Linked DNA regions of Homo sapiens: regions 1, 3, 4 and 5 are each linked to region 2. Evidence: fine-mapped expression QTL. A gene starts in region 2. Each other region holds a variant in brackets. All regions are shown on one strand. Distances are between the middles of the regions.

Region 1 (6,067 bases), 150 kb before region 2:
TGGTGAATGGAGAAAAATGAGGAGTCGAGCCTAATGGGGCCCTTCCCAGGTATGCAAAAGGCACACCTACACCTTTGAACCAATTGGAAAAGAATGTGGACAAAAGATCACATCCAAGCCGGGTGCGGTGGTGTGCACCTGCCGTTCCAGGGACTCAGGATACAGAAGTGGGTGGATCACTTGAGCCCAGGAGTTCAAGGCTGTAGTCTGTAGTCTGCTATGTGTGTGTCTGTGAATGACCACTGCACTCCAGCCTGGGCAACGCAGTGAGAACTTATCTCAAAAAAAAAAAAAAAAAAAATCACATCCTTTGCTGGAAACATCGCCTTTAAGGGTCCCTGTTGTGAAACACAAGTGCCCATGTAGCTTCCCCACAGATCTTATGATTCCTTTTACTGTTCGACTTGAAACCCACAAGAGTGTGACGTGGGCATGAGGATAGGCATGGGTTTACTGGTTTACTAGATGGGGGCCGCCAGGACCTCCCTGAGAAGCTGAAGCCCCCTCCCACAGTAACCGTCCTCTCCCCTCTGATGACACAGAATGGGCCAGGGCTGCTCATTTTGGCTGAAAATCACAGCTCTGTTCTTTTCTTTTTCTTTTTTCTTTCTTTTTTTTTTTTGAGACAGAGTCTCACTCTGTTGCTCAGGCTGGAGTGCAGTGGCATGATCTCAGCTCACTGCAACTTCCACCTCCTGGGTTCATGCAATTCTCCTGCCTCAGCCTCCCGAATAGCTGGGATTACAGGCATACATACCATGCATGGCTAATTTTTGTATTTTTAGTAGACATGGGGTTTCACCATGTTGGCCAGGCTGGTCTCGAACTTCTGACCCCAAGTGATCCACCTGCCTCAGCCTCCCAAAGTGCTGGGATTACAGGCGTGAGCCACCGCACCTGGCCAAGCTCTGTTCTTTTCAAATCCCAATCCCTGGGAAGGCACAGTGCCCTCTCCAGGTCCACCTGTGAGCAGGGCAAGGCTGGGCCACTCCACCAGCTCCAGGGGGCCGCGGTCCTGTACATGCCATGCAGGCAGCACAGAACGTTCCAGCCCCAGGCTTTTTGTCAGTGTGGCTTTTGAATGTCACTGCATCCCGCAAGAGACACCGTAATGCTGTTTTAATTATTTCTTTCCCCTGCTGGGAAATCACCTCCATCAAAATGGCTATTCTGAACCCATCCCCAGCCTAGCAACAGCCGGAACTGAGAGGGAATATTAAACTGTTTTCTAAAACTTCGGTGTTGGCATTCGATTTCATATCAAAACTTACTCCAAAGCTCTGATCTGCGGCAGGAAGACAAAAAGCTAACAAGATCAGAAAGGCCAGGCTCACTACGGAGAATGCTGAGAGATGCCAAGGAAGGGGGCTGCTTTGCAGCAGGTGCACCCCAGGGGGTCAGCGGGTCATCACCCTGGGAAGGAGCTGGGGGAGGGGGGGGCGCCACAGCGAGGGACTGACTGCGACCAGAGGCCAGCCCAGAAAGCATGGCCGATGGGATCCCCAGTTCTCTGCAGAGCTGGGGTGAGCGAGGGGGTGAACAACCCATAACTGAGTGAGCAGCGACTCCTTTTATAGGATACTCTAAGGGAGATGCTCTCAGGGCTACAGGGAGAGTAACATGAACACTTCATATCCTCCCGGTACAAGGCAAATTATGCCCCCCACAAATCCACATGCTGAAGTCCTAACCCCAGCACCTCTGATGTGATGGTATTTGGAGACAGGGTCTTTATGGAGGTAATCAAGATTAAATGAGGTCATATAAGTGGGCCCTAATCCAATAGGACCGCAGCCCTTCTAAAAAGAGGGGTGCAGGCTGGGCATGTCCGCTCATGCCTATAATCCCAGCACTTTGGGAGGCTGAGGTGGGTGGGTCGCTCAAGCCCAGGGGTTTGAGAACAGCCTGGGCAACATGGTGAAACCCCATCTCTACAAAAAATACAAAAATTAGATGGGCCTAGTGGTGTGCACTTGTGGTCCCCGCTACTTGGGAGGCTGAGGTGGGAGGATCAATTGAGCCTGGGAGATCAAGGCTGCAGTGAGCTGAGATGGCACCACTTTACTCCTGGGTGACACAGTGAGAACTTGTCTCAAAAAAAAAAAAAAAAATAGGCTGGGCACAGTGGCTCACGCCTGTAATCCCAACACTTTGGGAGGCTGAGGCAGGCAGATCATGAGGTCAGGAGATCAAGACCATCCTGGCCAACATGGTGAAACCCCGTCTCTACTAAAAATACAAAAATTAGCCAGGTGTGGTGGCACCTGCCTGTAATGCCAGCTACTTGGGAGGCTGAGGCAGGAGAATCGCTTGAACCTGGGAGGCAGAGGTTGCAGTGAGCTGAGATCACACCACTGCACTCCAGCCTGGTGACAGAGCGAGACTCTGTCTCAAAAAATAAAAACAAAAATAAAAAATAAAATAAAAGAGGCGGTGAGGACACAGACACACAGAGGGGAGACCATGTGAAGACACGGGGAGAAGCCGGCATCTACAAGCCAAGGCGAAAGGCCTGAGGATGTAATTCTCTGATGTCTGAGCCACTCCCCTGTGGCACTTTACTACACAGTGCCAGTGAACCAATGCACCCCCCTCATTTTAAAGTTTCCAAAGATGCATTCATTCCCAAAAAGGGCCTCTGAAGGGGAAAGCTGTGACCCAAGCTGTCTCAAGCAGCACAATTAGAGCCATCTCCAGACCCAGCCCCTCAACCACAGCAAGAAATTAAGAAACGTCCCCAGCAGACAGCTCCTTTCAAGGACTGTGGGAGCTGGGCCATCCTGAGTCTTGGATGTTTGTGCAAAACCTACATTAAAACGAGTGACCAAGAAGTGATAGGAATGTGGGTGGAGGACACCCATGTCACATCTAAGCTTCTGGGACTTTAAAGTTTTTCAAACTGCAAAACCCTT[T/G]TATTTTTAATAAAAGGCCTCACTTCCAAGGAGAGCCCAGCCCAGGAGATCCCCGGTGAATCGTCAAGCCTGGGTCCTCGGGGAGCCGGCGTTCCTGCTGAGCTGATGTTGTACTTCTGAAGGCCTGTGATCGCTAACTGCACCATGAGGCAGAATGCAGGGTGCTCTCAACCAGCTGGGGGTTGGGGTTCAGGCTTTTTTTCATCTTTCGGCCAAGGCAGACAACAACGGACTCATCATCCCACGCGACTGAGTGACGCGAGGCTTCAAACGCAAGCACGAGTGTTTAGAATCCTGCATTTTCAAAGGCTCTTGCCCACTGGGAACTACATGGAGAGGAGATTAAGAACAACAACCAAAAGAGGCAGGGGGTGGGGCAGGCGTGAGGTAGGGGTGGGGTGGGGATGACAGTCAACACAGCTTGGACCAGAAGCCCATGGCGCCTGGCTCCCTGGAAAGGCACAGGGCACAGACGGATGCCGCCTTTCTTGCTGGGACACTCCTGCCACCATCCACAGCTCCCCCGTCACTCCACGTTCTTGTACTTGGTGAACAGGTTGTAAAGAACCCTCAGGGTGGATTTGAGGTCCAAGTTAACCACGTCTGCAGAAGGAAACAGAGAAACTTCAGAGGCGTGCCATCCTCCTGTCATTGCGGTAGGTACTCTCAGAAGCCACGTCTCCAGCATGACACCAGCTGCCGCATCCACACACAGCGCTTCCCCTTAAAGACTGGCCACCACCATGTCCAGGACGCTCTGGGCAGTGCCTCCCCAGACACACAGGTTTTGTGAGAGCTCCTGGCGCGGGCTGACACCCTGCGGGGACAGGCACCTGGGGTGACAAGAACAGAGACACTCCCACAGCCCCTCCTGGATCTGCATCAGGACATGTCTAAGAACCGGTTGGGGGACATGGCTAATGACACTTACCGGGACCAAAAACCCCAGTAACACTTAATGGACCCGACAGCTCCCTCTGGGGCCCTGGAAGTCTTGGGCCACTTTCTTTATGTGGACAAGAACCTTCCTGGGAATCAGACACCTTGTTCATTTCACTTGCTCTGTGACCTCTAAGTGACTTCCGTGATTTGGGGCTCAGTGCCTTCATCTGTAAAATGGGCCTGGACCAGGTAACGCTCGAGGCCCTTGGAGTCCTGACTCCCTGTGATCCAAAAGCAGCCATGGGATGACCCTGTGCTTTAGTCCTGATCACAAGAGTAAGAAACGACATCGGTTACTGAGAGAGCAGGTGGGGTGGATGCTAAGAATCAGCAACTGTCCTTGTCACTGGGCATGGAGTTTCTCGACTCACACACCCTCATCAGAGCCTGCACAGCCTCCTTTCCTTCCCTCTCGTTTTACAAAGAGGACCAAGACTCACATGGAGAAATGACCTGCCCACGAGTGTGCTGTCAGAGCAAAAGCAGGGCTGAACTCAGCTCGGTGGGCTTGGGGACACACCCGGGGCTCTGTCGGGGAACTCGGCTCGGCGGGCTTGGGGACACACCCGGGGCTCTGTCAGGGATCCCAGGGTCTCCCCCTGACCTGAAGAGTCCACCCCAGCTCCCAACAGCCCAGTGGAGGCAGGGGAGGGAGAATGGCGGCCATGGAGTTGGAGGTGGCCAAGGCGAGGGGGGCAGCAAGGACAGAGGAGCTCCCAGGGGTGGGGGCCATCACCTCCTGGCCCCCTCTGACTCCACTCCCATGGTGGACTCACAGGGAGACCAGAGCAGCAGCCTGACACCGATGCCCCCACGCAGCAGCCCCCAGGTCTGAGCTCTGAGAACTTCCAGACAGCCTCGCTGGACAAACAGAACTTAACCCTCACACCCCTGCCAGACCTGCTAACCACAGCCACCCCTTAGCACCTGCGCCCAGGGATAGGAATCACCTTCTGTGACCCATGAACCTCAGTCCCTCTGTGCTCCCCAAACACCCACCCCACCATCGAGCTCCGCACTCGGCTCTGTGAATTTGGAGCGAGCCACAAGCCTTTCTCCCAGGCAAGGGGCCTCCTTAAGAGCAGGGTCGGGGACCCCACTGGAGTCTCCGCCAGGTCCCCACAAGGGGGCAGGGGGCCAGGATGCCCATCATTGCTGGGGGCCTAGGGAACCAGGTGCAGGCCTGGCTCTTCAGACCCGCCCACGTGCAGGGGGTGTGAGACTGCTCTGCTTCCTCCGGGTGGGGACCAACAGGGCAGTCTCAGGCCTGCAGGGGAGGCCACAGCCACTGCCTCCCTCCCCACCAGCCCTGGGTACCCGGGTAAGTCTGCCTAGCTCAGAGGAGGGTGTCAGGGAGACCGCAGCCACTGCACCCCATTCTCCGTGTCATTCTTATCTCTGTTACCTCCTGATTCTTGCTCCCCAGCTGATTTTGAATGAAGAAGGAAAAGTCTCTCATTCATTGCATCAGCCACAAAATAAAGAGGCCCAGCAGGGACCCCATCTCATAAATCTCTGCGGCTTGGCCCCTGCCCAGTGCTGGCCCAGCGAAGGTGCTAATGAGCACTGCAGACCAGCTCTGCCCCCTGCCTGGGCTGGACAGAGGCCCTGGGACACCCAAGGGACCCTGCCTGGGAGGCTGCAGAACTTGCTATTTGCCCTGGACCAGTGCCTCTGCCTCTGGCCTGGTTTCCACACGTCCGTGGTGGGTTCCCTAACGTGCCGTCCAGCGGCAGATGAGTAGGAAACACATCCGGGCTCAGGGGCAAACACCCTCCTAGGAGGCCGGCCTGTCAGAGGATATCCTGGCCTCTGGACAGGCTCCTGCCTCACTCCTCAAAAACGGGACAAAGGGCCAGGTGTGGTGGCTCACACCTGTAACCCCAGCTCTTTGGGAGGGCAAGGCAGGTGGATCACCTGAGGTCAGGAGTTCAAGACCAGCCTGGCCAACATGGTGAAACCCCATCTCTACTAAAAATAGAAAAATTAGCCAGGCATGGTGGCGGGTGCCTGTAATCCCAGCTACTTGTGAGGCTGAGGCAAGAGAGTTGCTTGAACCTAGGAGGCGGAGATTGCAGTGAGCTGGGATCGCGCCACTGCACTCCAGCCTGGGTGACAAAGTAAGACTCTGTCTCAGAAAAAAAAAGTCGTGGGTTCGGGAGGACAAAGAAGCAGGGCTCCCTCAGCAGCTCAGAGGCAAAGGGCCACCAGGG
Region 2 (6,067 bases):
ACCTCACCGATGAGCCCGCCCCTTCCCCCAGCTTCCCCCTCCTCCCTTAGAGTCCTCAACTCAGGAACATGTCGGAGCCACATCCGTTCTCCCAAATCCACCCTCAACTTTCTAACAAAGGAGGAAATGAAGCCGACGGTGCAGCAGGCAGGGTCGTGGAAACCTCCCAAGCGCCCTGTCACTCCCTGGTAGGCAACCGAGCATAGCTCTGACGGCCCAAAGTCAGGGCCAGGGGCTGCTCCACCCTGGAGTGGCAGAAGCGCATGTTGCCAAGGCAAATGGGCTTGCGGAAATACCAGCGACTCTCAATTATTCAAGCCCTCATTATCCAGTCTTCCTGACTCTTCCACTTCCCAGGAGACCACACAGAAGCCGCTAAACCCTTCCCAATCCAGCCTGTCCCTCAATTCCTGTGCCTAGATCCAAGGAGGGTTTGTGGCCCTCTGTTTGCCAGGCACCCCAACCCTGAGAACCGAGGCAGGGCGCCCAGCTCACCCCCAGCGAAAGCAGCATCAGCAGTGCCCGGCGTCCTGCTCCTCCTCCTGCCTCCACGCCCGTTCTATTCAGCACAGGATGCTTCCTGCTACCGGAATTCTTGGTGCATTTGAATTAAACCAGGCTGGGCCTGAATTTTCTAGACACACATCAATTCATACAGGCAAGGAGGAGAAGCACTGCGTACTTTGGAATTTGGGCCCAGTCCATTACTTTGGGTGTGTGTTCTTCCTATTCCGAGAGCGTAAACGGCACCTAGAAAAAGCTGCAATAGCCCAGAACATTCCGGTTCCTTGCCATTCTATGAAAGACTTTTTCCTCTGGTTCCTTCTGGCCTCCACTCAAGTGTCCCCTCCTCAGAGGCCTCCCCTGGCTCTGATCGCCCTGTTCTATGTGCTCCGGGGCACGTCATCACAGCGCCAGTTGTCTATGTATTCATTCCCCGTTCCACGAAAGCAAGCACCCCGCCCCCGCTCTTTTCTTCCTGGGGTCTAAGCAGCACCTGGCCCATGGCGGGCGCTCCACAGGCTGTGGGCTGAATTGGGAGGGGAGCGTCACTTGCGTCTATAATCGTTGCAAGCCATAAAGAGGAACCGAAATGATTTCTGGTGAGGGTGCTGATGACTGCATGGAAGAACAGTGGGGATGATAGAAGGGTGACAGCCACTAATCATGTCATTTAGGAGACGTGACCAACACCGACCAATACAAGCTACAGTGGGTCCTCCAGTGTAAGGCTTGAGAGAAGAGTGACCTATCCGCCAGGAGACCTACTGAAGGGGACAAGACCCTGCCCTCTTGGAACAGGATCACGGGTGGGAAGACACGCATCCCTGGGGGCACAGGCATCCCTGGGAGAAAATGTCTGGGGAACCAAGCGTTCCCTGCACTGTACAAAAATCCTGGGGAGCAGGTGCATGGGGGCACACACATGCCTAGAGGCAAATCTGTCATATGTCTTCCCGGGGCACACACATCCCTAGGAATACAAGAGTCCCAGGGAAGAAATGAATGGGGGACCTGCATCCCGGGGTACACTAATCCCTGGAGGCACAGGAAGAGTTCCCAGGGGATATGTCAGGCCCAGGTGGTTTAAGGAAACCGTACTGCATACCCGCTATGGGAGGGCTCCTTCCCGGGGACCCACCTGAGGCCGGCCTTTCTCCATCTGCCTTTCCACAGCAGCTCCCCTCACCTCTCACCAATCCGAAATCTCACTATAGGGCATGGTCCCGGGGCAGAACCTCCCCACCCAAGCAGAAAATTCCAGAATGTATCTCCCAGGAGGCCCTGGGCAAGCGGTACACTTAAAGACACCAGACTATCCCTTGCAACTCTAACAATCTTTAAAACGTACGAGGTTGGTAGTGTTTCGTGAGCACACGCAGTAAAAAATTTAAAAAAAAAAATTTTTAATGGGATCTCTGCAATTCTTGCTCGCAGGCCTCCCAGGCCTCAGCCCTGCACGCCCTGAGCCCCGCACCCTGCAGGGCGCCCGCGCAACACCCAGTAGTGGGTCCCCCAGGCCGTGTCTGCCCAGAGTGCCCTGCACACGTGAGCGTCACTGCTCATGGAATGAACGGTCACCCCGCGCGGCTGGCTATGCCGCTGGCCCAGGGAAGAGCTGAACACCCGGCAGGCAGAGCAGGCGCGGGCCCCGCACGGTGGCCCGAGGTCCCCGCCGCGCAGGCGCCCGCACGCGCGTTTGGCAGACTCCGGAGGCCACCGCGGCCCCACGCGCCAGGTCCCGGCCGTTGTTTACGGGTCCTGGGTCAAAGGCCTGGCCTGTCCCGAAGGTCGCGCAGCCGCGTGGGCCGGGCGGGGTGCGTGGGGGAGGGCGGGGGCGGCCTCGTGGGGCTCTAGGGCCGAGGGCGGGCACCGCCGGGCAGGTCCCCGGGGGTCGGCGGGCGCGGGCGCGCACTCACCCTCGCGCGCCCTCCGCTTCCTGGCCAGGGTGCCGCCCAGCTTGCCCAGGAACGACTCGTCCTTCTTCATCCTGCGGGGCCGCGGGGTGGGCGAGCGCGGCGCGGAGGACATGGGCCGCGCGTGGGGCCGGCGGCGGGCGCAGCGCGTGTGGAGCCGCCCGGTCGCCCCGGGGAGAGGCCGAGGGCGCGGCCCCGCCGCCGGCCCCCGCCCCGGTCCCGCCCCCGCCCCTGGCCTGGAGCGCGGCCCCGGCGTCCCGGATGCCCGAGGCCTGCTGGTCCCGGCCAGAGCCGTCCCCGTCCCGCGCCGCCGCTCAAGCTCAGAGAAGGGGCGTGGGGCCACCCCGGGAGCGGCGCAGCCTTTTCCCTACGCGTTGGAGCCCTGGGCTCTGCTCGGCTCCGCTAGTGGTGCCGGATCCAGGCGACAGCGCGACAGACACCATTGCCACGTGGGTGCAGCCTCAGGACGTCCTGAAAGCCGGAGAGAATCAGGTCACACGAACGTGGCCGGTCTGTTGTTAAGCTTCTGCCAAGAGCCAGGCCCGGGGCAGGGGGAGCCCTTCAGAACTGGGAATTGTCCCTACCCACGGGAAGCTTAGAGGATGGAGGGCAATGCGGGGCACAGGTCATTGGCCTGACCTCCAAGGGGAGTTCCAGGAGTTGTTTCTGGAAGAGGCGACGGGGAGGCCCCAGGAAATGGCTTGCAGGCCGGTACCATGAGGTGAGCAGAAGAGCAGGCCCTGGGGACAGTGTGGGGTGCCAGGGAGGGGAGAGGAGGGGAGACAGGCCTCGCATGTGTTGGAAGCAGAGGAAACGGCTTCATCCCGAGGACTGCCAGACAGGGCTATTTTTATTTTATTTTATTTTATTTTATTTTATTTTATTTTATTTTATTTTATTTTATTTTATTTTATTTTGTTTTGTTTTATTTTATTTTATTTTTTTAGACGTAGTCTTGCTTTGTTGCCCAGGCTGGAGTGCAGTGGCACAATCTCGGCTCACTGCAACCTCCACCTCCTGAGTTAAAGCGATTCTCCTGTCTCAGCCTCCTGAGTAGCTGGGATTACAGGTGCACGCCACCACGACCGGGTAATTTTTGTATTTTTAGTAGAGATGCGGTTTTGCCATGTTGGCCAGGCTGGTCTCGAACCCCTGACCTCAGGTGATCCGCCTGCCTCGGCCTCCCAAAGTGCTGGGATTATAGGTGTGAGCCACCATGCCCAGCCTAGATACCCAGGCAGGGCTTTGAGCTGTGATGTCACAGATGTTGCCTCTGGCTGATGGCTGCTCAGCAGGTGCTGGAGACAGAGAAGGCACAGGCAGGCGGACGGTGACTTAGGAGAAAAGCAAACAGATTTCTGAGATGCTCACAGCCAGAAGCCCCAGCCTTGAAGAAGTAGGAGGAGTAGGCCAGGTGCAGTGGCTCGCACCTGTAATCCCAACACTTTGGGAGGCCAAAGCAGGCAGATCACCTGAGGTCAAGAGTTCAAGACCAGCCTGGCCAACATGGTGAAACCCCATCTCTACTAAAAATACAAAAATTATCGGGGCATGGTGGTGGATGCCTGTAATCCCTGCTACTTGGGAGGCTGAGGCACAAGGATCGCTTGAACTCGGGAGGTGGAAGTTGCAGTGGGCAGAGATCATGCTACTGCACTCCAGCCTGGGTGACAGAGCGAGACTCTGTCTCCAAAAATAAAAAAAAAATAAAAAATAAAAAAAAAGAAGTAGGAGGAGTGAAGGCTGGGTGTCCTGCCAGGCCATGGTGGATCACTCAGCAGAGGACGGCACCTGGGGAGAAGTGGGTTCAGCTCTGGGTGTGTGGGTTGAGATGGTTTTTCTGTCTCCCTTTGTGCTGGCTGCCCCCCAGTCCCCCCAGTGCAGTACATGTTTCTGTTGGTCAAGTTGGTGCCAGGCCCAGTCCTCAGCCAGGGGCGTGAAGACCAAGGGCACAGAGCTTTGTCCTCCAGGAGTTTGTGGTCAAGGAGAACGTGGGCACAGGACACAGTGGCCGTGTAGCGTGGCCAGCATGGAGGAGGGACAGGGACCATGTGGATGGGGTGGGGGAGAAGTGCTGTGGGCAGAGGAGGCTTGCAGGGAAGGGACATTTGACCTGGAACAAGGATCAAATGCCCTTTTCCTTTCAGTAAAGGAGGAGAAGACCCACCAGGCAGAAGAGACAGGGAGAGGACACTGGGGTGTCTTGGGGCTGCCAGCACAAAGTTCCATGAGCTGGAGGGCTCAGAACAACAGAAACGTCTTCTCTCACAGTTTGGAGAGAAATAACAAGGTCTACGGGAATTATGAGGCAGGCACGGTGGAGGAAAACCAATTGATAAATATCATCATCTCACAAGGGTCTTTGCAGATGATCAAGTGAAGATGAAGTCACCAGAGTGGGCTGTAATCCAAGATGACCGTGTCCTTGTAATACCCCTGTGTACTGGGGATTAGGATTTCAGCAGGAGGCCAGAAATCCAAATCAAGGTGTAGGCTAGGTTCATTTCCATTTGGAGGCTGCACGGGCAAATCTGTTCCCTGCATCTCTCCAGGCTCCTGGGGTTTGCCAGCAAATCTTCCATGTTCCTCGGCCTGTAGAAGCATTGCCCCGTCTCTGCCTCCGTCTCTACTAGGCCCTGTGTGTGTGTGTGTGTGTGTGTGTGTGTGTGTGTGTGTGTGTGTGTGTGTGTGTGTGAGTCTAGACTTTACAGGGACACAGTCATGTTGGATTAGAGCCCATCCTGGTGATTCATCTTCACCTCATCATCTGCAAAGACCCTGTGAGATGATGATATTTATGCATTGGTTTTCCTCCACCATGCCTGGCTCATAATTCCCATCACCCTTGTTATTTCCTCAGTGACTATAGCAATAAGCAGATCTTTTGTTACAATATTTGTTCTTTTTTCCTTGGTTCCTGAAGCAGTGTGGAAACAGCTTCAGAGCAATAAAGGGGAACGATAGTCCTGTGTTATCATGTTGGATCTTTGGAAGCAGGCTTCAGGTGTAGTTTCTCTCTCTTTCTGACCTTCTTTCTCCTTCCCTCCTTTCACCTGCTCCTTTTTCTCCCCAAGTCAGGCCATAGAAAATGAAAATATACTTGAATCTTCCCCCACCTTTCCATCTTGGAGCTGGCCGTGGAGAAATTCTCTGACCTGCCTTGTCTGACTGAGGGTCACGGGACCCCCATTTCAGGAGGAGTCCAGCCTCCCGCCCAGGAGGAAGAAATGCTATACAGACAGGCCTTGCGGGGCTTCACCACTCTGACTGATGGTGTTGAGTCATACTGTTTTTGTCCAATCACACTTCGACATGGTTGTCCAGCTTCAATTGTGCTTAGCCAATGAAGGCTCCATAAAAACCCAAAAGGGGGGCCAGGCGTGGTGGCTCACGTCTATAATCCCAGCAGTTTGGGAGGCCAAGGTGGGTGGATCGCTTGAGGTCAGGAGTTGGAGGAGTCAGCCTGGCCAACATGGTGAAACCCCGTCACTACTAAAAATACAAAAATTAGCCAGGTATGGTGGTGCATGTCTGTAATCCCAGCTACTTGGGAGGCTGAGGCAGGAGAATCGCTTGAACCCAGGAGGTGGAGGTTGCAGTGAGCCGAGATCACGCCACTGCACTCCAGCCTGGTCGACAGAGTGAGACTC
Region 3 (6,067 bases), 63 kb before region 2:
ACCGGTCTACTTGCCAGAAAGACAAACCCTTCAAAGATGTGAAGTGCCGGCTGTCTTCAGTCACAGAGAAAGATCTGCTGGCCCGGGTGTGCTGGCCCGGGTGTGCTGGCACAGGCGCGCTGGCACAGGCATGCTGGCATGCATTCTCTCAGTGTCTGGAGGGTGTGGAGGGTGTGAGCTTCCAAGGGACTGGGGCTTGATTTCATGAGATGGGTGATTAAGGGAAAAAGACCGCCTTGTGCTTGTTTTCCTAAGTGTCTGCATTGTTCTAAGATGAATGTCTCTGTCCACACGAAACCCAGCAGCCAGCCACGAGGGAGTCGATGCCAACTCGTTCCCACCGCAGCAGAGTTCACCTGCAGCACCACGCTCTGTGGCCTGCACGGGGGGCCAGGTAGGAAGAGAGAGACAGGAGGGCATTTGATAGGAGGAGGGCCCCTTGGCACACTGTCTCTGGAGACGGGCACTCCTCGCTCAGCCCGGGATGGCAGAGTGGGAAGTGCAGGCTGCAGTCACCAGATCTGAGTTTTCAAGAAAAGCTGGAAATGTGGGGTTTGGTGTGGAATCTCCCCATTTATAAATACGAGCCATTAATTCAAATTTTGTGGGCCAGCCAGAGGGCACACAACCTCGGATTACAGAACATACTTGTCCAACCCATATTGCTGACTGTCCATTGGAAAGGGGGAGAGCACCACTAACGTTTCCTGAGCACCTACTATGTGCAGGGCATCTTCCATGCCAGCCATTCACCTTGTCTCCTAACAAGTCTGAGGGAGGCCGGGCACGGTGGCTCAAACCTGTAATTCCAGCACTCTGGGAGGCCAAGGTGGGCAAATCACCTGAGGTCAGGACTTCGAGACCAGCCTGACCAACATGATGAAACCCTGTCTCTACTAAAAATACAAACATTAGTCAGGCGTGGCAGTGGGCGCCTGCAATCCCAGCTACTTGGGCGGCTGAGGCATGAGAATTGCTTGAACCTGGGAGGTGGAGGTTGCAGTGAGCTAAGGTTGTGCCACTTCACTCCAGCCTGGGCAACACAGCGAGACTCCGTCTGTCTCAAAAATAATAACAATAATAATAAATAAACAAGTCTGTGAGGGAGTGGCTGGTCCTGTGCTGTTAGATGTGAAGCCCCAGAGTCAGGACTAAAGCCAGTTCTACCTGATCTTGCACCTCACTGTGCCCTACTAAATCCTACCTATCTTCAACCTCATCTTACTGGCCGCCTCCTCCAAGAAGCCCTCCTGGGTGTTCCCCTCTCCCCAGCTGAAGCCACACAGCCATGTAACTATCTCCTTCCCGAACTTGCCTTCCTGCCAGTGCCAACCCAGTTCCTGCACATAGTAGGCCTTTTAATATATTCAAGGAGCAGCACAACAGAGAGCTTAGAATCCCAGAGCCAGGCTGCTGGTTTTGGATCCCAGCTTGACCACTGACAAGGTGTGTGACCTTGGGCAAGCTGCTTGACGGCTCTGTGTGTCTCAGTTTCCATCTGTAAAGTGGGGCCTAACACACCTCAGAGAGATCACAAAGATTCAGGGACACACACCCTCGGCACAGTCGCCAGCATGCAGCCACCCCTCGGGAAGCGTCAGCTTTGAGTAACTATAATGGTGGAATATGTGCGGCTTCCAAAGCCTCCACCCAAAGATTGGGCAAGGTTTAAAAAAAAGAAAAAAGAAAAAAAAAAAAAAAAACACCATCGTTCCTGATTTGGAATTACAAGAACATAAAAGGAAAGAAAGAGAATCAAAAACTAAAAGCATGTCATCAGAAGCCTGCCATTTATACCTCAGGCCAAATGCGAAAGTTCCATCTTTGATTTTTTTTTTTTTAATCTTCTTCTTTGTATGGTTGTATTTATTTATTTATGCCCAGGCTCTTTCCCAAAAAAGGATTTTCAGGCAGCTTTTTTTCCCCCTTTTGATATTATTAGGAAAACAACTTTGAAAGCAAGCTGGTTTAAAGAACAAGGTTACCTTAACGGAGAGAAGAAATCTGAAAACACAAAGGCTGATCAGCTTCTTGCTCCACTAGCAGAACCAGGGCAGGACACGGGGGATGGCAAGGCGCCCCTGCAATCACGGGCCCAAGAGCCTCACTGGGGGCTTGCCTGGAGGGTCTGGCCCAGACACAAAGGCCCAATGGAGGCTGAGCCACAGGTCCTGGGGGGCCAGAGCAATGGCAACTCCATTTTCTGACACTTTTCTAAGTGTGTCATTTCAACACAGCAGAGATGCTTTGCCACCTACGGGGACTTTCTACACCATCCGTGCAATTCCTGGTTTTCATAGAGAACAAAAGATCAGGGCGAGAAATTTCAGAGGGCCCCGTCTGAACCAGGATCAAAGAGAAAACCCCAACAAAAACAGCCATTCTCCATCCCTGCACATCTAAAAGAACTGGAAAATGGCAGGAAAGCTGCCCCAGTTTTAAACACTTAACCAGCCCTTTTCAAATCCTACCCACTTCTAGTTACAACTGATCCTGCTCAAAGAAACAGAGTGGTCTTCAGAGCTTGCGGGAGGATACAGGAGGAGAAAGAAAGGTGCGGCTCTGTGCCAACTCACGCCACCAGCTCCTCTTCCCAGCTGGGGAGGGGGCATCGGGATCCTTCGCTTGGGCTTAAGCAGGAACCCAAAGACATCTCTGTTAAATGAGGTTTTCCAGGCCTCTGCCAGGAAATGACAGCTTTCTATGAATTTTCCAACTTCCATCCGTACTCAGAGGGGTGTGGTTTCTTCGTAGAAGCTGTAATTTATCAGAATAACTAACTTCATCAGGCACGAAGGTCTTCTTAACAGAGCAGTTTTTCTAAAAATAAGTCCAGTTGTACTTCAGTGAAGATCTTGCAGCTCAGTGGAGTTAAAATAAGACCTAAGTGAGATCTAAATCAGAATAAAAACATCATCAGCCTCGGCAGCTGGGAGGAGATGCTGTTGGGCAGTCTTTTCTGACATCCAGAAGGAAGGTGATTGGAGGGAGTCGCGGATCATAATTCAAAGGGCTGAGCTGTTGCTGGCACATCACGC[G/A]TGCAAAGGCCTTGAAATGTGAGGCCTGGCCCTCCCCAGGAGGTTACGAACTCCAAGTCCAATCTCCAAGGTTCTTGGGATTACAAATCGGAGGAATAACAAAGTGTCTTGCCTAGGATAAAAGGCAGCAAAGGCTAACAGTGCCAGAGAGCAGCTGCTCCTCCTGGCCCGGACATGGGAAAAGAGGGAAAGGACTTCCAGTGATCCATGGAGCACAACATACAAGAAAGCGCTTCTTGACGTTTCAAGTGGCAGATGTAGTTTGTTTTTGCCGAGAAATGGATGTGGGCCCTTGTCATGCAGGATGCCGGCCCAGGGTAATGAGCTCGGTGTATTTATGTACATGTAACTCACTATCATCTCTAAGCCAAGGATGAGTTTCTGAACGGTGCTGACATGACTAGAGGAGTAAGAAAGCCCCGTGACTGTGGCCCAAACCGGAAGGATCGCTCAGCTTGAACATCTGATTTATGGGGCTTGTTGTGCTGGGGCATGAGGTTCCAGCCCATTTCTCAAGATGAAATAAGTTGAGAAGCTAAAAGAAATGTGTGAACATTTCAATAAGGTAAATCCAAAGAAGGTCAACAGGTGGCGCAGACTCCACATCAAGAGCTCACTGCTGAAACCCTGTCCTATTCAGATGGCAGCAAGCCTTGGGCATGACAGCCTGCTGATCTAACTAACACTGGTGGATGGATGCCAAAGGGCTGGGCATGGGGCTGGGCAGGCCCTGCCCTTGCACCGTGGAGAGTCTGCGTGTAGCCGAGGGAAGACGTATCCTGGTCACTTCCACCCAGCAGCCGACCTCGCACCTGGCACAGAAGGCTCGTGAAGGATTCGATGCACAATTAATTAAGTGCAATACATAGCATGGTGTTGAGATTTTTTAAAAAAGCAAAAGCAGGTTGGGCCAGCTGCAGTGGCTCACACCTATAATCCCAGAACTTTGGGAGGCTGAGGTAGGTGGATGGCTTGAGCTCAGGAGTTCGAGACCAGCGGGGCAACAAGGCAAAACCCCATCTCTACACAAAATACAAAAATTAGCCAGGAATGGTGGTGTGAATCTGTAGTCCCAGCTACCCAGGAGGCTGGGAAGAAAGTTTGAAGCCGAGAAGCGGAGGTTGCAGTGAGCCAAGATCACGCCACTGCACTCCAGCCTGGGTGACAGAGCCAGATCTTGTCTCAAAAAATTAAAAAGAAAAAGAAAAAGAAAAAGAAAACCATGTTGCAGAACAATACAGCAAAGGCTGGGTGTGGTGGTGTACATCTGTTGTCCCAGCTACTTGGAGCTGGGGTGGGAGGATCACTCGAGCCCAGGGGTTCAAGTCCAGCCTGGGCAACATGGTGAGACACTTTAAAATAAATACAGCATGATATTTATGTAAAAAATACAACTAGAAAACTCACCACTATGTATTTCTATGTGTACGTATCAAAATTCACAGAAAAAGAAATGAAAGGGCATGCTCCAGAATGACAAGAGCAGCATTACTGATGCAAGGCCCAGTGGCTGAAGGTAAGGAGGAGACAGAGGGAGGCTCTGCCACCAGACTGTGTTCTTGTACTCCTTTTGAAATAAAAATAAAGCTACAAGAATGGAAAATAAACAGATGTCCTGGCAGGGTTATGTACAGGGTGCAGTGGGGACCCTAAAGGAAACAAAGTGGCAGCCAATTCTACAGGGAAGGACACACACTGGGTTCAACCATAGAAATGGCTCTGAGACCCAGAAGGAGTCTCGGGCCTCTCCCGGCAGCACTGGCTGCCTCGGGGGACACAGTGAGCTACCCTGAAGGAGGGAGGAAGCTGGGGAGGGAAAGTCCTGCACGGTCCCATCCCCACAGATGACTGCAGAATAATAACATGACTCTGAGACTATGGGTGACAGCAAAGGCCCTGGCATGAGTGTCTGTGCCAAGAACGCAGCGGAAAGAACCAAGATGCCAGACCTGGGAGTACCCTTGGCAGGCTCACATCTCGTGCCCTATTCTTGGATTGGCCAGTGGGGCTTTCTCACCAGGATGGCCACCTTGGCCCCTGCAAGCCCTGCCCTAAACTCTTCCCACCCCAGCCCAGCCTCTCCCCTTCTGGAGGTGACTGTTATGGACACCATTGCTTTTCTTCTCCAGCATCCATTGATCCTTTCAGGCAAACAAGACTCAGCCTCCCTCAGAGAGAGCCACCCCTCCTGCCACCATGCTCGGGCCTTGTAGTTCAGCTCTGGGGTGGAGCAGGCATCCCAGGACAAAGCCAGCTGGCACACTGGCCTCCCAGGAACACAGTCAGGGATGGGCATGGCCCAGTTAGAGCTAATGAACTGCACTGAGACTTTACCAGGAATAGAGAATGAGACAGGCACTCCTTCCCACTGGCCTTGACCCAGAAAGGATGGAGGTTGAAGCCGTCCCATCATCTTACCACTATACAGAGCCTGGAGATGAAGGCACCAGATCGAAAGAGCTCGGGGAAGGGGAGAACAGAATCTAGGATCTAGCAACACCTTCTATGTGCTGGATCAAGCCTTACCTGAGGCCATCCAACCCCACAGACCATTCTGTCAAATGTACCAGTGAATTCTGTTTTGCTTTTAAGCCATTTTGAGTTGGGTTTTCTGTCCTTTGCAAACCAAGAGAGTCCTGTCTGATGTAGAAATCCTTCCAATACACAAAGCTGGCGTTGGTCACTCCCTGCTGCAGTGCACCCCATGGCTCCCACCAGCTCCAGGGTAAAACGCAAAACCTTCATAGTGGTACCCGATGACTGTTAATGAGCAGACCCCTCCTCTCATCAATACAGCTGCAGTTACCATGCTTCCACACTCATCGTCTGATGAGGCCATTCCAGGCCACTTCTGTAGGTCATATCTCTGCCCCTCTGCTCGACTGTCCCCACAACCTGCAATGCCCTTCACTTCAGGTCAGCTAGCTCCACCCATTTCCCACCGTCTGGAAAGCACACTCTGCACATCCTCTATCCCTGGGTGCAGTTCGGGCCCCTCCTCTGGGTTTCCACAGCTCCCCGTGCACATG
Region 4 (5,820 bases), 160 kb before region 2:
CTTGGAGCTTTCCAGACTGAGGAGGAACACGGAGACAGGAGCCCAGCCCTGCCCCCAGCCACCCAGGACTGCCCGTTTTCTCTCTAGCAGCCTAGGGCAGCCCGAGGGCAGGGATCATGGGTTCTTTTGTTACCTCCCAGCACCTCAAAACAGCAGGCACTCAATAAGTGTTAGAGAGGCAGTGTGGTGTGGTAGAAAGAGCACCAACCCTGGCGTCAGAGCCCCACCCTGAGCCCCAGCTCGGCCCCCTCACTCATGGGCTGTGGACAGCGCCTCCATCTCCCCAGCCCAGGCCCATCTAGAAAGTGAGACAGGTGTCCCTAAACCCGGGACCATTGTGGGGACTGAAGGAGAGAGCCTACCTGTGGGCCCTGGAGGGGCCAGGTCAGGGGGATGGGGCCGAGGCCCAGGCAGCCCCAGAAACAGCCACTTACGGAATAGGTGGTGTAGGATGAGCCCGTCGAACATGTCCTCCTCCAGGCTGCGGACCACAATGTGCTCGGGGAGAAGAGTGGCATTGATCCACTCCATCAACACCTGCAGGCTCCAAGGGGACAACTTTTGGGGGGATGGAGACTTCTCACCTGGCCCTCCACCTGGCTCAGAATGCCTGCCTCTCGCCTGCCAACTCCTACCCATCTTTCAAGGCCTGGTCAAATGTCACCTCCACTGGGAAGCCCTCCTTGATCTCCCAGGCTGTTAGGGGCCTGCCCCAGGTTCCTGCAGACTCCCTGCTTCTCTCCATCACAAACCTGAGCAGTGTGGGGCTGTCATTATCATGTGTGAGGTTTTAGTACCAGGAAGTGGGGTACTACCATAGCAAATACCCAAAAATGGGGAAATGGCTTGGGGAATGGAAAGAATTGGACAATGAGCACTTGATAGAAAAAGCCTAGATTGCCCTGAAGAGGTGGTCAGTAGAAATATGGATGTTAAAGGTGCCCCTTCTGAGGTCCTAGGAGGAAATGAGGGACATGACATTGGACGTGAAGATGGAGGTGGGGACTGCAGTGATGCATCCACAGATCTGGGAGACCAGGATGCTGCAGCCATCACAGCTGGGGGAAAGGGAGAAGACAGGGGTCCCCTGAGAGCCTCCAGAAGGAGCCAAGCCTGCCGACCCCTTGGTTGAGGGCCTCTGGCCTGCAGCACTGTAAGACAGTAGGTTTCTGTGGTTTAAGCCATTCAGTCTGTGGTCACATGTTACAGTAGCCCTAGGAAGCTAATGCGGGGGCTGCTGGTACCCTGCCCACTCCTTGACTGTTGCCTACTGGCCCAGCTCCCACCTGCAGCTCTGCTCGAAACTGTCCCCACTCTGCTGTGCTCAAAAGGTCAGAGTGCCAGGGAATCAAGGCCCAGCCCTTTCTCAGGGAGCAGCTGTTCACTAAAGGTTGTCAGGAGGTTGTCGGGGCAGGGGTGGTGGTGTATAAATACCCCAGCTCCATCGCCCCTTGGGCAGGAATGCACTGAACTTGCTCTATGCTGGCTCCAGGGTACCCAGCAGGCTTGAGCCCCCAGAACCATGACCAGCTCCATCACTAACCATGTGTTGGCCCCTTCCCTCCCATGACCCCTGGGATAACCTCCCAACTCAACTACTGGCATCCAAATCCTTGTCTCTGGATCAGCCTGTGGAGGAGACCGAGCTGAGACGACATGTCAGCACCTCACCAGGTCTTCCGGGCAAGACCACAGATGGTGTCCCCAGTGCCAGTCACAGGGCTGGGCCAGGTGTGCTGGTCAAAGGTGGGAAAGGTGGATGGATGGAGTGAGGGAATAGGAAGGAGGATGGGAAATGGCCCACAAAGCCTCTGGGTATGGAAGATGGTGTAGGCCAGGAGGCCTCCCTGGAGGAGGCAACAGAGAGGCCATGTGGAGACTGGAGACACAGACGCTGAGGGAAACAGAGGCCTGGAGCCCACCTGTGCCGAGCTGGTCCAGTGGCCATAGCAGCAGACCCATGACCAAGGAGAGAACTAAGAATGGGTGACCCAGGCCCACCACCACCACCTCACCAGTTCTCCTACACCTTGGGCAGACAAGCTGGGGAGGAGCACGGGCTTAGGGGCTGGCAGCTCGTGTCAAACCACAGCTCCGTTACGGGCAGCTGCGTGCCCCTGACAGATGAGGTCACCTGTCTAAGCCTTGCTGTCTGTCCTGTCCCCGGGATGTAAGGGATAATAGATTCCCCTCAAATCCCATGGGGTTGCTGGGATGGTGTATGTGAAGGCACACAGTTGGTGCTCAATAGATGTTTGTTCATGCAGGCTCTGTGGGTGACTTGCTCCATTCAACAGGCCTTCCAGGGGTCTTCGGGGGTCGCCACCCCCCAGCCTGAGGCCAAGGAGTGGGGACAGCCTGCTGTCCCCGCCCCGTGGAGGCCGCTGCCTGGTCTGCCAAGAGGCACCCAGGGAAGTCAGGGCTGTGGAGGCTGCTGTACCTTCTGCAGTTCTTCAAATTTGGGGTCCTTCCGGGAAGTGGGTGGCAGGTATTTCTTCTTTCCTCCTGGAAGCAGAGTGGGTATGACAAGCGCATGGGGACCCTGTGGGGCGCTTGGCCACACTCCCTGCAGGTCACCCACAGATTTCAGCACCGCAGACCCAGGGGCACCGGTCCTGCCACTTCCGCCCCAGCGTGCTTTCCCTCATTTCCCTCACGAACACCAGCTCATCCTCAGACACTGCAGCATTTATACTTTGAGACATAAACTCGGAAGTTATTTCTTGATTACTTGACATTCAAAGTTAACTGGGTATCCTATGTTTGATATATCTGGCAACCCTACCTATTTAGGTAAAGTGAAACCCCAGCCAGAGAGGGGAGGAGGTGCCCAGGCTCACCAGGCTCTAAGGGGCTAAGGTGGGACTTACCCCAGGTCTGCCAGGCCCCTCCATGGCCCCTCTCGTAGTCAGACTCCCCGGGGTGGCCCTCAGAGGCCCAGCAGCTCCCCTTCCCCAAGGCCATGGCCAGCATCTGCCCACATTTTAGACTCACAGAACCCACAAAATGTCAGGGCCAAGAAGGACCTCTGAGATCAACTAGTTCCAAGGTACATGGGGGGATACTGAGTCAGCAGTGGCGACTGTCTTGCCTAAATTCACAAAATGCATCATCTCTCATGTGACC[C/T]CAATAAAGGCTTTTCCTAGGTATTCTGAAAACCTTCAAGTACTACCCAGACCCATGTCTTCTGATGAAAGGGAAGGCAACAGCGTCATGGGCTGTTGTGCCCAGCACAGGGCAGGCTCTCAGCAAACACTTGGGCGGGTGAGCAGGCGAATGAATGAATGAAGAAAGGAAGGAATGAAGGAATGAGTGAATGGATATGGTGCTGCTCCTTCCTGGAGCAGACTTCTTGCCGCTTGAATCATCCAATGTCCCAGCTCTGCTTGCCAGAACTTTTAGTAATTTAAATCAGTTGTAAAACAAAAAATTAATGGGTTTTTTTGTTTGTTTTGTTTGGTAGTAACTAAGTCCTACTATTCTAACTCAGCAACTTTCCTCAGGACACTTTCTAATCTTCAATGTTTTAAACACAGAATACCAGATGGTGACAAAGACAGCCAGGTGACTCTGGACCAAGCTTGTCCCTTCTGGGGTCTCATCTGCCGTGCCAGGGACCCTGTTGGCACTGGAGTTCTCGCTCCATAACACCTACTTAAAAGGCGGCATTCAGGGCTGGGTGCAGTGGCTCACGCCTGTAATCCCAGCACTTTTGGGAGGCCGAGGCGGGTGGATCACTTGAGGTCAGGAGTTTGAGGCCGAGCTGGCCAACATGGTGAAACCCCGTCACTACTAAAAATACAAAAATTAGCCAGGTGTGGTGGCAGGTGCCTATAAGCCCAGCTACTTGGGAGGCTGAGGCAGGAGAATCTCTTAAACCTGGGAGGCAGAGGCTGCAGTGAGCCGAGATCCTGGCACTGCACTCCAGCCTGGGTGACACAGTGAGATTTTTGTCTCAAGAAAAAAATAAATAAATAAACATTAAAAGGCGGTATTCACAGGAGCTGGAGAAAGCCGCATTCTGCTCCCTTCCCTTAAATTATTTCACACATTTTCTTTGTCAGCACATTTATGTTTTTGTGGTTACATAAATTCCAATGAGTTCACCTAAAGCCCTTCCCCACTGGGACATCTCGCTGCTTCCTTGCAAGCTGTTGTTCATTTGTTTCTTTCAGAGAACACAGAGAGGGTGACAGCTCTGGGTACCTGCCCATGTCCTTCTTTTGAGCCATCTCCTAGAAGGGAGGTTGCAGGAACTGTGGCCGCCAACCCCCCAAAGGGCTCATGACACAGAGCTTTACTGAAAGGGCGACCTATAGTCGTTGAATTGCTCCATCCTATGCTCACCCCACTTTTGAAAGGGACCCACACGTGTGAGGGGAGCACGTCAGGAGCCCCACACCCTGCAAAGTATCACTCCATGGTGGGCATCGCTGCGTGGTCCGTGTGGAACCTCAGTTCTGGGACCACCCTCCTTGGGCTCAGAACCCAGGTCCACCACTTGCTAAGAGTTTCCTGTTACTGTGGCACGTCACCCCTTGTGCCTCAGTTTCCTCATCTGTATAAAGCAGGCACTGATGCCCGCCCTTGAGAATAAATGAGTTGCTATTGGTAAGAGGTGCTGGTGCAGTAGGGGCACTCAGAAGGCTCACAGGATGAGAGCAATCAGTATTCACCATCGTAATCCACACCGTCTCTCATCTGGAGAGAAGAGGTTCTAGCTCTGTAGAAGGTCCCAGGAGGAGGAGTTAGGTCAAGCATAAAGCAGAAGGTGGAGGCAGGGGTGAGCAGAATTGGGCGCTCAGCTGACAGCTGGGAAGGTGCTGCAAGTCCCAGGCATGGCCAGGCTCACTCTTGCCACACAGACCTTCACCCTCCACCCTCAGACCTGCGTGGGCACACACCTTTTGAGAGCTCCTCCTCCGCTGGGGGCTCCACCCCCTTGGGGAGCTGCAGCAGGTCGTACAAGAACTCCGGCTCCATCGCCTCCCAAGCCTGCACAGAGGAGGCAGGAGAGGGCGTCACGGTCTGAGAAGCCCCAAACTCACTGAGCCCCTCATTTTCTCTAGACCTGGAGGCACAGAAGGAGGGTAGAAGCCAGGTTCTGGGGACACGTCAGCATGCCAGCCTAGGCAGGGGGTACGGGCCCTGTGAGAAAGAGCCCTTGAGCCAACCCTTGCGGGGTGACGGGTTAGAAAAAGGCACAGAAGCTGAGGGCGGGCACAGCCAAGCAAAGGCTTGGCGGAGGAAGTGGTCCTTCCTCAGGCAGGTGCAGAGCGGCCGCCCACCGTGCTCCTGCAGCCCCCAGCCCCCTACCCAGGGACCCCCCACCCTATCCCAGACAGGACAAAGTAGGTACAGCTCACTCCTCAGAGCTTGTCAGGTTGAGCTCAAGGGAAACCTCCCCGGTCGGCCTGTGTGGGGCTGGCTGAGGTGGATACGTGGAATGGTGACATCTCCCATCCCATAAACCGGAAGGGCCAGGGTTGACAGAGGCACTGTTCATCTTCCTCCTCCTCATTACAGGCAGAAGGCTGGGCTCACCACATGCCCGGGACAGGGGCAGACCCAGAGGCCAGCCCAGCCCTCCTTCCTGTTCCCCTGGCCCACTTCCTCTCCTGTGAAGGCTTCGCTGGCTCGGCTGGCGCCTTCTGGCCTCCCTCTTCCTCCCTTTTCAGCCCCTGGGTCTTCTCAGTGTTTTCAAACTCAATCAGACATTGAGGTAGGGGAGTCACATGGCAGAAGTTGGTGGCCAGAGCAGGGAGCCCCCTGAGCTGTGGGAGACGGAGGCATTCACTCGACTGGAGCCACCCATGTCAC
Region 5 (6,067 bases), 34 kb before region 2:
GACCTGACACACCAGGATTTTTAGAACCTCAAAGCTCCCAGCTTCCACCATCTTTCCACCAGCAAGTTCTTCTGGCTCAATCTCCCTTTCTGCTGCTCAAACATTTAAAAGTTTCCTATTGAAAACGATTCCCTTGCCTCAGATCTTGGGACTAAAGATGGTCCTGTGACAATCAACCATGAAATTCTTTTCTTTTCTTTTTTTTAGAAAGAGTCTCTCTCTGTTGCCCAGGCTGGAGTGCAGTGGCAGAATCTCAGCTCACTGCAACCTCCACCTCCTGGGTTCAAGTGATTCTCCTGCCTCAGCCTCCCAAGTAGCTGGGATTACAGGTGGCTGCCACCACACCCAGCTAATTTTTTGTATTTTTAGTAGAGATGGCATTTTACCATGTTGGCCAGGCTGGTCTCAAACTCCTGACCTCAGGTGATCCACCTGCCTTGGCCTTCCAAAGTGCTAGGATGACAGACATGAGCCCCCACGCCTGGTCTCAGCCATGAAATTCTAATACAAAAGGCCACCTTACATTTCAGAGTGCCCTTTCCGCCTTCCCACAACATAGGAAAGAACATTTCTCCCGATAGCAAGCAGAGAAAGCATCGTGGTAGAGAAACTGCCACCTGGGTACCTCACATCCCCCTTCCATGATGCTGAGCAAACACGCCCCGCCAAAGACGACGAGTGCTGTTTAAAACCAAATGACAGCAGGCTTTGCAAGTGTTTAATAACACATCTTCTGTGCCTGTCAAACAAGCCAAGTGAGACTTTTTAAAGGAAAATGTGTACGGCATCTTTCTTTATTAAGCTGAGACAATCAACACCACGTACGTGACACCTGAATGTACACCCAACATTCACATTTTGTGGCAACAGGCATCTCTTCTCCCCTGTGAATGAGCTTGGGATACCATACCGGTGCCTTCTACTTCTCGAGGCTGATGGAGAGTAGCATTTATGCAAAAGGAGTACATCAGAAAAACTGCTCCTTACCTTATGGCTGACAAATGGAACAGGATGAAATGACTCAGCAGAAGTCAACCTAAAAGGGCTTGTCAGTGTGCAAGCTGTGGGCACTGTGCAAACACAAGCCTCACGGTGTTTTATTAATCCAAAGAGAAGAACAAGTCCTCCTCCCCTTTCCCATCAAGACCTAGAACAGTCTAATAACTAGCCACGGGGCTGGGCACAGAGGCTCATGTCTGTAATCCCAGCACTTTGGGAGGCTGAGGTGGGTGGATCACTTGATGCCAGGAGTTCGTGACCAGCCTGGCCAACATTGTGAAACCCCGTCTCTACTAAACATACAAAAATTAGCTGGGTGTGGTGGCGGATGTCTGTAATGCCCGCTATTCAGGAGGCTGAGGCAGAAGAATCGCTTAAATGTGAGAAGCAGAGGTTGTAGTGACCTGAGATCGTGCCACTGCACTCCAGCCTGGGCAACACAGCAAGACTCCCTCTCAGAAAAAAAAAAAAAAAAAAAAAAGCCACAGGGTGTGCAGAACTAAGAAGATACAATCAACTCTGCTTCTGTTTCCCCCCCCCATCACACCCTCATCTATGAAAGTAATAACAAGAAGGGTGACTGAGTGACCATAACTAGTGGGTTTTAGTCACTAACTGAGCACCAGGTACTGTGGGTTGAATGGTGTCTCATCCAAAATCCACGTCCGATGGGCGCAGAGGCTCATGCCTGTAATCCCAGCACTTTGGGAGGCTGAGGCAGGTGGATTGCCTGAGCTCAGGGGTTCAAGACCACCCTGCGCAACAGAGTGAAACCCCATTTTTACTAAAAATACAAAAATTAGCCAGGTGTGGTGGCAGGTGCCTGTAATCCCAGCTACTCAGGAGGCTGAGGCAGGAGAGTCGCTTGAACTCGGGAGGAGGAGGTTGCAGGGAGCCAAGATCGTGCCATTGCACTCCAGCCTGGGCTACAGAGTGAGACTCCATCTCAAAAAAAAAAAAAAAAAAAAAAATCCACGTCCACCTGGAATTGGACAACTGGAGAATGTGCCTTATTTGGAAACAGGGTCTTTGCAGATGTAATCAAGTTCGGATGAGGTCATACTGGACTGCGGTGGGCCCAGCTGGTGTCCACATGGGAGAGAGAAATTTGGATGCTGACATGCAGAGAGAAGACCATAGGAAGACACAGAGGGGCATGAAGGGGGACACCTGTGACAATGGAGGCTGACTGGAGTGACATGGCCACAAATCAAGATATGCCAGGACTGCCCACCGTCCCCAGAAGCCAAGAGAGTCAGGAAGGATCCCTCCCTGGAGACTTTAGATGGAGCAAGGCCCTGCTGACACCTTGATCTTGGACTTCTGGTCTTCAGAGCTGGGAGAGAATAAACTTCTGCTCTGTAAGCCAGCCAGTGTGGGGTACTCTTTTATGTCAGGCCTAGGAAATTAATGCAGATTTTGTATTATCTCAATTTATTATTTTCAAGAGCCCAGTTAGGCAGGTGCCTTCCTTTCCTCCACTGGACAGGGGAGGCAACCGAGGTTCAGGGAAGTTATGTCCCTTCCCAGGGTACACCCCAGACAGGAAAGCAGGCAGGAGGATGAAGCCAGGTCTAGCGGCTCTCAGCCCCACCCCTCTCAAAGAGCCCAGGCTTCCAGCAAAGCTCATGCCACACTGGGAGGCTCCTGGTCCCTGCTTGAGCCGTCCAACCTCCCCTCAAGGCAAGCATGAACCCACAGGGCTTCCCAGGACCTAAGCTGTGGGACTGGGGCTCCAGCCCCCTCTCTCTCCTCTCCCTCCTCTTCCACTCCCCTCCCCCACCAAGCGGGTGTCTGGTGCTAGACTGACTCCTCTCTCAGTCCCACAGGTGCCAAGTGCTGAGACACCGGGCCCCCTGCACATCTGGCAAGACAAACCGTGAACTGCAAGTGGGCCTCCTGCTATATCCACTGGTCTCCTGAGCTGACCTAAGGCAGGCCTCCCCCGAGACCCAGTCCACCCAGAGTGCGGATAAACTCAGGCTCCAAAACCACCCCTGCCAAGTCACAAGGGCCCCCCTTGGACAGCTCTCAGGACACAGCGTC[C/G]CAGCTCTCCTCGGGCCTCGCTCTTGGGTGAAATCCAGCATGAGCCTCTTCCCCCACTTTTGGATTTTTTGCGAGCACGGAGATTCTTTTTAGAAGCTTTATTGCTCTACAGTCACTTCATTAGTTCTAGAACCAAATAATCCCATTATATATGACTCGACTGGCTCATAAAATTATCATTCATTCTAACAAATATTTATTGAGCGTGCCACATGTGCTATGCTTGGTACATCACATTTTTAAAAAATAATTTACTTAGCTAATGATCACAAGTCCCCTAATTTAATTTACTCTTAAATGTGTTTAATTTTCCCACAAATGGAACGACACGCTTCTAAACTGAGCATTTTTGTCAGGTTGAGACACGCAGGACAAAAAAAAAAGAGAGAGAGAGAAAGAGAAACTTATCAGCAAGAAAGCCTTGGAACAAAAACGCCCCCAGCTCAGCCCCCAGCTCCACCCCCAGCTCAGCCCCCAGCTCCACCCCCAGCTCAGCCCCCAGCTCCACCCCCAGCTCAGCCCCCAGCTCCACCCCCAGCTCAGCCCCCAGCTCGGTCCCAAGCCTCTAACCCCTGGGCACAGAGCAGGTGCCATTTCCAGACATTTTATACAGTCACCCTCACCACCTGAGAGCTATCATCATTACCTGATTGAGAAAACTGGGGCACAAAGGCCAGATGAGGTGGCTCACACTTAATCCCAGCACTTTGGGAAGCTGAGGCAGGAGGATCACTTGAGCCCAGGGGTTCGAGGCCACCCTGGGCAACATAGTGAAACCCCATCTCAACAAATAATTAAAAAATTAGCCAGGTGTGGCTGTGCACGCCTGTCGTCCCAGCTACTCAGGAGGCTGAGGTGGGAGGATTGCTTAAGCCCACAGGGTCGAGGCTATAGTGAGCCGTGATTGCACCACTGTACACCAGCCTGGGTGACAGAGGGAGAACCTGTCTCAAAAACAAAAACAAAACGAGACAAAATGAAAACAAAACAACAACAACAACAAAAAATCTGTGGCACAGAGAGGTAGAGTAATTTGTCCGATCTGGTTCAGCAGGCAGGAAATGGCGCAGGCAGAATTCGAACCCGGGCAACGCTGCATCCGTGTGTGTGCCCTTCACCCACCTGCTCCCTGCCTCTTAATTAAAACTCAGCAGGAGGAAATCCACATGCAACTCAGGCACAGAATCACCCCTCCCAGGTGACAAAGGGACGGTGCTCCTGGTGTGGGATCCCACACGGCCACACAGCAGAGGCAGCGGTGCCCCAAGTAAATGGGGCTGTGCCCCAAAGCTAGGCTACTGCGTAAACTCGAGTCATAGGACAGCACGCACGGTGGGGCTCCCGTCATATTGGGGTCAAAGTCGGGCAAAACTAAAGAAAGTGAGGGACAGAGATGCATGCGTGTGCAAAACGCAAGGAAAGACAAGCAAGTGGGGCAGGGCCTGCTGACTAGCTGCCTGGACTGGGTGGGGAGCGGCCTGGTGCTTGGCTAACCATTATTCTGGGCGTGCCTGTGAAGGTGTTTCTAGATGAGGTTAGCATTCGAATCGGTAGACTGGGTACAACAGATGGCCCTCCCCAGTGCGGATAGGCCTCGGCCAATCCATTTGACACCTGAATAGACCGAAAGGCAGGGTAAGGGGATTCACTCAGCTGGGACGTGGGTCTCCTCCCGCACTTGGGCTGACGCCATTGGCCCTCCTGGGTCTCCAGCTTGAAGATCCTGGGATTTCTCAGTCTCGTAACCACATGAGCCAATAACTTATAATCAATCTCTTCAAATATATATATATATAGAGAGAGAGAGAGAGAGAGAGATGGATAGAGACAGACAGAGAGACAGGCTGGGCGCGGTGGCTCACGCCTGTAATCCCAGCACTTTGGGAGGCCGAGGCGGGCGGATCACGAGGTCAGGAGATCGAGATCATCCTGGCCAACATGGTGAAACCCCGTGTCTACTAAAAATACAAAAATTAGCCGGGTGTGGTGGCCAGTGCCTGTAATCTCAGCTACTGGGGAGGCTGAGGCAGGAGAACTGCTTGAACCAGGGAGTCAGAGGTTGCACTGAGCCGAGATCACACCATTCCAGCCTGGCGACAGAGTGAGACTCTGTCTCAAAAAAAAAAAGAGACAGAGAGAGCTACATATCTCCCATTGGTTCTGTTTCTCCAGAGAACTCTAACTAATACAACATGCTAAATGCAACGTTCAAGGCGGCACTGGTCACCTCTGGTGGGGAGGGAGGCGCACAGGAGGTACGGGGCATATGGCTCGGGGAACAGGTAATGTTATTTCTTAAGCTGGATAGCAGGAACGTGGGTACTTCCTTAATATTAGTCAGTAAACTATACATATGTACACTCTTTTGTATGTGTAATGTATTTCCCAGTATTTTTTTTTCATTCTTTCAATTGTAGTAAGGTACATTTAACATAAAATACATAAAATTTCTCACTTTAACCTTTTTTTTTTTTTTTTTTTTTTGAGATGGAGTTTCACTCTTGTCGCCCAGGCTGGAGTGCAATGGCGCAATCTCGGCTCACGGCAACCTCTGCCTCCTGGGTTCAAGTGATTCTCCTGCCTCAGCCTCCCGAGCAGCTGGGATTACAGGCGCCCACCACCACACCCGGCTAATTTTTGTAGTTTTAGTAGAGAGGGAGTTTCACCATGTTGGCCAGGCTGGTCTCAAGACTCCTGACCTCAGGTGACCTGCCCACCTCGACTTCCCAAAGTGCTGGGATTACAGGTGTGAGCCACCGCACCCGGCTACTTTAACCATTTTTAAGTGTACGGTTCAGTGGCACTAAGGACATTCACTGCTGTGCCACCATCGCTGTTATCCGCCAAACTCTTTTCTTCTTGCAAGGCAGAAACACTAACTCCCTGTCCCCTCCCTGCCCAGCCCCCAACCCCTGCCCCTGGCAACTGCCATTCCACTTCCTCTCTCTATGAGTTTAACTCTTCTAGCTGAGGAGCTCATGCTGTAATCTGAGCACTTTGGGAGGCCAAGGCGGGAGGATTG

Direction of the effects. Alleles are on the strand shown, and positions count from the first base shown. SD is a standard deviation of normalised expression in the study named. Not every link is listed here.
For the expression in whole blood of the gene that starts at base 2,570 in region 2, T is the low allele of the variant in region 4 and C is the other (large effect, 1.8 SD a copy in Lepik 2017).

What was found.
Region 1: its variant is fine-mapped to the expression of PARVB in whole blood (INTERVAL, PIP above 0.99). The same link has a PIP of 0.9 or more in B cells, CD8 T cells and monocytes.
Region 3: its variant is fine-mapped to the expression of PARVB in sun-exposed skin (GTEx, PIP 0.98).
Region 4: its variant is fine-mapped to the expression of PARVB in whole blood (Lepik 2017, PIP 0.95).
Region 5: its variant is fine-mapped to the expression of PARVB in subcutaneous fat (GTEx, PIP above 0.99). The same link has a PIP of 0.9 or more in esophagus muscle and gastroesophageal junction.

Annotation. Positions count from the first base shown.
Region 1 is chr22:44,166,050-44,172,116 of GRCh38, reverse strand. PARVB (parvin beta) reads right to left here. Exons shown (of 13, transcript NM_013327.5): 13 at 1-3,515. The coding sequence ends at 3,439. Among named protein-coding and RNA genes, the nearest start is that of PARVG, 12 kb to the left of the region's middle. RefSeq lists enhancers at 1,499-2,020, 3,911-4,690. The variant T/G (reference allele first, on the strand shown) is at 2,913.
Region 2 is chr22:44,020,805-44,026,871 of GRCh38, reverse strand. PARVB (parvin beta) reads right to left here and starts at 2,570. Exons shown (of 13, transcript NM_013327.5): 1 at 2,421-2,570. The coding sequence starts at 2,532. It overlaps LOC124905131 (a long non-coding RNA gene), which reads left to right and starts at 4,097. Exons shown (of 2, transcript XR_007068125.1): 1 at 4,097-5,421. RefSeq lists enhancers at 303-412, 913-962, 1,033-1,082, 1,123-1,202, 1,213-1,292 and silencers at 2,063-2,272, 2,323-2,372, 2,443-2,562, 2,593-2,702.
Region 3 is chr22:44,083,483-44,089,549 of GRCh38, reverse strand. All of the region lies in intron 1 of PARVB (parvin beta), which reads right to left. Among named protein-coding and RNA genes, the nearest start is that of PARVB, 62 kb to the right of the region's middle. The variant G/A (reference allele first, on the strand shown) is at 3,039.
Region 4 is chr22:44,182,493-44,188,312 of GRCh38, reverse strand. PARVG (parvin gamma) reads right to left here. Exons shown (of 14, transcript NM_022141.7): 3 at 4,905-4,995; 4 at 2,441-2,505; 5 at 435-537. The coding sequence starts at 4,983. Among named protein-coding and RNA genes, the nearest start is that of PARVG, 4.5 kb to the right of the region's middle. RefSeq lists enhancers at 5,808-5,820, 5,211-5,820. The variant C/T (reference allele first, on the strand shown) is at 3,127.
Region 5 is chr22:44,054,453-44,060,519 of GRCh38, reverse strand. All of the region lies in intron 1 of PARVB (parvin beta), which reads right to left. Among named protein-coding and RNA genes, the nearest start is that of PARVB, 33 kb to the right of the region's middle. RefSeq lists an enhancer at 4,482-4,982. The variant C/G (reference allele first, on the strand shown) is at 3,046.